2 linked regions of the Homo sapiens genome follow. The protein of the gene in region 1 purifies or fractionates together with the protein of each later gene. This does not show direct contact. Each region holds a gene or a part of one and is shown in the gene's direction. Other genes may lie near its edges.

The links.
Region 2: the proteins of ABCA6 (region 1) and ANKLE2 purify together in Homo sapiens (affinity purification with mass spectrometry; one large-scale study listed by BioGRID and IntAct). This does not show direct contact.

What each region holds. Positions count from the first base shown.
Region 1 is NC_000017.11:69,110,896-69,114,716, reverse strand, and holds part of ABCA6 (ATP-binding cassette sub-family A member 6), read left to right. Parts: intron 1-979; coding exon 980-1,099; intron 1,100-1,356; coding exon 1,357-1,495; intron 1,496-2,443; coding exon 2,444-2,534; intron 2,535-3,776; coding exon 3,777-3,821. UniProt on the Homo sapiens protein: Probable transporter which may play a role in macrophage lipid transport and homeostasis.
Region 2 is NC_000012.12:132,744,535-132,748,355, reverse strand, and holds part of ANKLE2 (ankyrin repeat and LEM domain-containing protein 2), read left to right. Parts: intron 1-24; coding exon 25-218; intron 219-335; coding exon 336-524; intron 525-3,821. UniProt on the Homo sapiens protein: Involved in mitotic nuclear envelope reassembly by promoting dephosphorylation of BAF/BANF1 during mitotic exit.

The sequences.
Region 1 (3,821 bases):
AATTAAATCATGACCACAGAATTCTCTTCAATGATTTATTTGCCCTGTTATGAATAAAATTTAGGCAAAGAGGTCCCATAACAAATATCGACTGCTTTAATGAGTGGTTAAAATTGCATAATATGAATCATTTTGGATTTTATTTTTATTTTTTATTATACTTTAAGTTAGGGTACATGTGCACAACGTGCAGGTTAGTTACATATGTATACATGTGCCATGTTGGTGTGCTGCACCCAGTAACTCGTCATTTAACATTAGGTATATCTCCTAATGCTATCCCTCTCCCCTCCCCCCACCCCACAACAGGCCCCCATGTGTGATGTTCCCCTTCCTGTGTCCATGTGTTCTCATTGTTCAATTCCCACCTATGAGTGAGAACATGCGGTGTTTGGTTTTTTGTCCTTGCGATAGTTTGCTGAGAATGATGGTTTCCAGCTTCATCCATGTCCCTACAAAGGACATGAACTCATCATTTTTTATGGGCTGCATAGTATTCCATGGTATATATGTGCCACATTTTCTTAATCCAGTCTATCATTGTTGGACATTTGGGTTGTTTTCAAGTGTTGCTATTGTGAATAGTGCCACAATAAACATACGTGTGCATGTGTCTTTATAGCAGCATGATTTATAATCCTTTGGGTATATACCCAGTAATGGGATGGCTGGGTCAAATGGTATTTCTAGTTCTAGATCCCTGAGGAGTTGCCACACTGACTTGCACAATGGTTGAACTAGTTTACAGTCCCACCAACAGTGTAAAAATGTTCCTATTTCTCCACATCCTCTCCAGCACCTGTTGTTTCCTGACTTTTTAATGATCGCCATACTAACTGGTGTGAGGTGATATCTCATTGTGGTTTTGATTTGCATTTCTCTGATGGCCAGTGATGATGAGCATTTTTTCATGTGTCTTTTGGCTGCATAAATGTCTTCTTCATTTTGGATTTTAAAAGTTGCGTATTTTCTCATATAGGTACAACGAATATTATTGGAATTGGACATGCAAAACATTCAAGATAACCTTGCTAAACATTTAAGTGAAGGACAGAAAAGAAAGCTGACTTTTGGGATTACCATTTTAGGAGATCCTCAAGTAAGTGAGATTATGCATGGGGAAGGAAGCAGGTCGAATGTCTGCAAAATGTCAAGTTCTTTTACCACTAAAAGTGGTAGAGCTTTCATTGTAATGCATCAAGAGAGAACCTGCTATGTTTAACTATAAATAGAAGTATATTGGAGAAAAATGGCTGGATGGTTATTATTTTATGGTATTTATTGTTTTTCATGCTATCTTCTGGATACAGTTAATGTGAAAGAGAGACATATTTTATATATCTTCATTCTCTGTAGATTTTGCTTTTAGATGAACCAACTACTGGATTGGATCCCTTTTCCAGAGATCAAGTGTGGAGCCTCCTGAGAGAGCGTAGAGCAGATCATGTGATCCTTTTCAGTACCCAGTCCATGGATGAGGCTGACATCCTGGCTGGTAATTGTTGGTTTTATCTCAGTGTTACCATGATGCAATTGGGGAATTTAGAAGCGAGGTCTATTCCCAGGGTAAGAGCCCTGCTCTCATTATGGTGATGTTCCTACATTCTATAGCAGTCAGGAGGACGACAGGAGTCTAGTTCCACTGTGGAATTCCTTTCTGGTTGTACATTTGCTAGGTAGTGACAACTAATGAAAAATTCTGATTACCTTTTTTTTTTAGATCAGCTGTCAATTAATTTAAACATTCAAATCTTTTTTTATATATATTTAATTGAAAAATAGACACTTATTCTTTAGCATCAGAGTATACAGTATACCATGTAATTTATGTGTTTTTTTTTTCAGAAAGTATTGGAAGGTGCAGATAGACTGGTGTTCATGAGCTTATTTTATTTTAAATTTAATTTATTTGTATAAATTTAATGAGTACAAGTACCGTTTTGTTACATGGATATATTATGTAGTGGTGAAGTCCAGGCTTCTGGTGTATTCATCACCAAATAATATACATTGTACCCATTAAATAATTTCTCATTCCCCATCCCCCTCTGACTCTCTCACCCTTCCGAGTCTTCAGTGTCTATTACTCCACACTGTATGTCCATGTGTACCCATTTTTTAGCTCTCACTGATAAATGAGAACATGCAGTATTTGACTTTCTGTTTCTGTGTTGTTTCACTTATGATAATAGACTCCAGTTCCATCCATGTTGCTGCAAAAGACATGGTTTCATTCTCTTTTATGGCTGAATAATATCATGAGTTCATTTTAAATGCATCAATTTTAATATGTATTTCAAATGTTAAAATGCACACTAGATCTAGTTATACCCTGTTGAATACTTCTCCTTTGCACTTCTGAGCCTTGGCTCCTCGTCTTTCTTTACTAGAGAAAGAAGAAATGACCCCCAATATCTTTTCTCCCTTGATTTCTTTCATTCAGATAGAAAAGTGATCATGTCCAATGGGAGACTGAAGTGTGCAGGTTCTTCTATGTTTTTGAAAAGAAGGTGGGGTCTTGGATATCACCTAAGGTAAAGACTTTGGGAATAGATTGGATTTATGTGTTTGCAATACTGGTATATGAAAAAGGTGGACAATTATGAAACAGAACTGGCCTCGTGCTTCATCTCTACCATACTGGATTGATCAGTGTTTCCTGAATACTTTTTTTTACTTTCCTTCCTCCTGTGTCTTTACAATGTTAATCATTGGCAACATTTCAACATGATAAACCAAGCCTGACTTTTCACAGCAAGACTACTTCATGTGCCACTTTTCTAGGTAGCTGTTCTGTGCAGCCTAAACCTCTACCTGCTTCCTACCCACATTTTCCTCAGCTGATCCATAGAATTCTGAAATATGTTTTCATTCTTTCATAGGGCAAAAAGGCAAATAATTTCAGAAGCCAGTATCAACAAGGAGAGAATCTAGGGGCAGAAAGTAATGATAACTGTGGCTAACAAAAAAGTGTATATATTAGTCTGTTCTCATGCTGCTAATGACATACCCGAGACTGGGTAATATATAAAGGAAAGAGATCTAATTGACTCACAGTTCGGCGTGGCTGAGTAGGCCTCAGGAAACTTACAATCATGGCAGAAGGGAAAGCAAACACGCCCTTCTTCACATGGTGGCAGCAAGGACAGATGCAGACTGAAGGCAGGGAAAAGCCCCTTATAAAACCATCATATCTCATGAGAACTCACTATCATGAGAACAGCATGAGGGTAACTGCCTATGATTCAGTTACCTCCCACTGGGTCCCTCCTATGACATGTGGGAATTATGGGAACTACAATTCAAGATGACATTTGGGTGGGGACACAGCCAAACCATATTGGTGTATATCCAGGCTAAAATAATTGTTTAAAATAACCCTATGGCCAAACAAAGCATGCATGTGGGCCAGATTTTCTCTACTAGCTAATGATATGGTCTGGTATAATAATTATTTTCCCTAAGAAGTCTCTTCTTCCTAACATTCTCAGCTTCCTACATTTATCTATAACTATACATATAAAACTCTATATAGTTCCATTTACATTATATATTTGTTTGTATATTTTGTAATTGTTCTGAGCTTATACATTTTCCATATATAGATTATAAAATTTTCAAACTGATAGATTACTATCATGTTAGTATTTACTCATCTTTTTGTTCCATAAAGCCAAGTAAAGTTGTGCTCAACAGCTAGGTGTTCAATTAAAGCTCTTCTTTTGTGATAGTGGTGGAGAAAATGCAAATGACTTATCTTTTCTTTTAAATATTAGTTTACATAGGAATGAAATATGTAACCCAGAACAAATAACATCCTT
Region 2 (3,821 bases), on another chromosome or scaffold:
TTAAATTCTGTCTCTTACTGACAGATGGTTTGTGCTTGTCGGAATCAGAAACAGTCAACAAAGAGCGAGCGAACAGTTACAAAAATCCCCGCACGCAGGACCTCACCGCCAAGCTTCGGAAAGCTGTGGAGAAGGGAGAGGAGGACACCTTTTCTGACCTTATCTGGAGCAACCCCCGGTATCTGATAGGCTCAGGAGACAACCCCACTATCGTGCAGGTAGGTCTCGGCGGTTCCCTCGGGCAGGTGTGCGGTCCCGGCCGTTCCATCGCAGCACTCGCACAGGGCGTGTCCACACATCAGATAGGAAGCTCAGAGCATGCGGTTCTCTTTCAGGAAGGGTGCAGGTACAACGTGATGCATGTTGCTGCCAAAGAGAACCAGGCTTCCATCTGCCAGCTGACTCTGGACGTCCTGGAGAACCCTGACTTCATGAGGCTGATGTACCCTGATGACGACGAGGCCATGCTGCAGAAGCGTATCCGTTACGTGGTGGACCTGTACCTCAACACCCCCGACAAGATGGTGCGTGCACACCCTCCACTCACGCTTTCTTTATTTAATTGGTTAAAAGTCTTTCCCCAAAAGAATGCTTTATCGACAAGTTACTCATTAGTATAATAACTTTGGGGAAAAGATACATCAATTACACCCCTGCAACCTGCCTTCTTACCACATCCCACTGGACAAAGGGCACCGAGCGCTGGGGTTCCCTGGCCCCTGCATTGTCGTCGTGTGTGCGATGCTGTCCCCGAGGGTGTCTGAACTGTCTGGGGACACGGTTGTCAGAGGACATTTCCTCTGCCGAACAGGACACCTTGAGCTGAGCAGCACTTCCCCTCCCGGGAGTGGCAGAGCTGTGCACACCACAGGCAGGCCCTCAGTGTCCTACCAAGAGCCACTGAGGCACAGAGCTGCCCCTGCAAACCATGCTGCCTGACACGCAGGGCTGTGGAGAGAGAGAGAGGCTGCCTGACACGCAGGGCTGTGGAGAGAGAGAGAGGCTGCCTGACACGCAGGGCTGTGGAGAGAGAGAGAGGCTGCCTGACACGCAGGGCTGTGGAGAGAGAGAGATGCTGCCTGACACGCAGGGCTGTGGTGTGAGAGAGAGGCTGCCTGACACGCAGGGCTGTGGAGAGAGAGAGGCTGCTGGGGTGCGACTGCTTAGAAACAGGAACGATCTTGGTAGCTCCGGAGAAAAGGTGACAGCAATCCTGGCCGATGCCCATGCCCCACCCTCCACCTGACCTGTGGGGTCATTTCATCTGAAGTGCAGCCAGCAGGCGGGTTGGAGTCACTGATGAGTGCCCCCCGGGCCAGGCCCATGCAAGGCAGCACTGGGAAGCGGGCACAGCTCTTCTAAAGGGTGCTAAAGACAGGCTTTTCCTTCTCTTAGCCCCTCCCACCCCTGGGAGCCCAAAAGTCCTTCAGGGCAGAGTAGGGAGCCAGGGGAGCTGCCCTGCTTGAGAAGAGAAGCAAGTTTTATACACTGGGATGGAGCGTGTTAGTGAAACCAACACCCCAACTGGAACAGGCAGTCACACAGGCCAGGTGTAAAATCCCACACAGTACTCACAGCCATTGAGCAACCCTCATTTATATGTTTATGATAAATAAAGCATGAGGTAATGTGAGGCTTGAATTTCAGCTTGAGTCCAAAGAAATAATATTCTCTCACTAGGAGGCTAAAGCTGCTTTGCCTAATTTCGATTTTTGAAAAGTCCACTGCATTAAAAAAAAATAATGAATTTGCTTTTCATTAAAGCTAGATTAGTACAACAATTGGGCAGTTGTTGATATTCAGTTTACTTTCTGTGGGCAGGAAATGGACACTTCTTGTTTAGCATTTCAAGATAAAAACTCATGGAACAGGTAGGGCTTTCTGGGTGATTGCATTCCTTCTGTGAGTTAGGGAAGGAGGAGGTCAAAAATGCCACTTATGCGTAGGACTCTTCAATGCTTCAACATTCTGATGGGCTAACCTGATTCTTTTTTTTTTTTTTTTTTTGAGACAGAGTCTTGCTCTGTCTCCCAGGTGGGAGTGCAGTGGCACAATCTCGGCTCACTGCAAGCTCCTCCTCCTGGGTTCAACTGATTCTCCTGCCTCAGCCTCCCGAGTAGCTGGGACTACAGGCACCCGCCACCATGCCTGGCTAATTTTTTTGTATTTTTAGTAGAGATGGGGTTTCACCGTGTTAGCCAGGATGGTCTCCATCTCCTGACCTCGTGATCGGCCCGCCTTGGCCTCCCAGAGTGCTGGGATTACGGGCGTGAGCCACCGTGCCTGGCCACTAACGTGATTCTTAAAGGGAGCCTGGGCTTTGGCTCAGTATTTCAAATCCTCCGCCCTGTCCACTTCCTGTACCCCTAGGAAGGACAGCACAGTTATCTGTTTCACCTACAAACTTTAGTATATAACTATGTACACAACTGTTGAAATTCATGTGGATGCGGTAGCCACGTCTCCTTGTGGATGGGCAGGACTATTCTCAAAGCCGGCTCTGCGTGTGCGTCCTGGCTGGCCGCTTTGTTGCTCAGAGCTCCGGCTGTGATGCTGAGGGTGTGTGTGTGTGCTCTGCAGCTGAGCGTAAGCGACCACAGGCTTAGAGAGGTGCGGGATCCGACGGGCTCGTCGCCCCTCCCTGCTGAGGAAGGGAGATTGTCCTTGCTGTTCTCTGTCACCCACGACCTTAGACTTCATGGGCCCAACTTGGTCTTCAAACGACTTGAAAGTTGCAAATTTCCTTACGTCTCCGAGCTTCCTACTGATGGCAGAGCCCACCATGGACAGGGCCGCTGAGGTCTCTGTCTTGGTTGAGGTCTTCTGTCTTGCTGTGGGAGCATTTCCTGAGTCTTGCAGAGATCCGGGTGGGCCACTTTCTCATTCCACTTCCACATTTCTCAGAAGTCTTCACATAGGCGTTAGAGAGGGTTCCGTTTCAGCCTCCAAGGCAGAGAGGCCCAGCCTCCTCTCAAGCTCTCCACAGTCCCCCTCCTTGGCTGCCAGCACTGGTGTAGAGTGACAGTTTCCTCATCCGTCTTGGTAGCTGGGCCCTGAGCTCTTCCTCCTCAGCCTCTGTCAGACCCTCAACAGCAGTAGCCTGGGCAGCCCCACCTGTGTCAACAGGGACATTGGTCATGGAGTTGGACGGCAGGCCTTTGTGAGGAGAATTCGGGTTGACATCTTGGCTGGCGGCGTCTGTGTTCAGGCAGTCATGGGCCGCGGTGCGGGCGCTGTGGGAGCCGAGTGATGGGCTGTGGGAGCCGAGCAGGCAGCAGCAGGGTTGCTCACTGCACGCACGCTGCCCGGGAGCTGCCTCTGCTGGCTGTTTTAATAGGAATGGTAGCCAGTATTGTAGTTTAAGAAAGATTTGTGAGGCCGGGTGCAGTGGCTCACGCCTGTAAACCCAGCACTTTGGGAGGCCGAGGCAGGCGGATCACGAGGTCAGGAGATCGAGACCATCCTGGCTAACACGGTGAAACCCCGTCTCTACTAAAAATACAAAAAATTAGCTGGGCGTGGTGGCGGGCACCTGTAGTCCCAGCTGCTGGGGAGGCTGAGGCAGGAGAATGGCGTGAACCCGGGAGGCGGAGCTTGCAGTAAGCCCATATCACGCCACTGCACTCCAGCCTGGGCGACAGAGTGAGACTCTGTCTCAAAAAAAAAGTCTATAGTGCTTACTATCTGGTCCTTGTCCAAGAAAGCTTGCCAGCCCCTGGACAGAAGGATGGAGTACAGGTAGCGTGGTGGTATATGCAAACATCCAGACCTTTTTGGGGTCGTGTGAGAGAGTTGTAAGGGATACCTCTAGTGGGTGATGG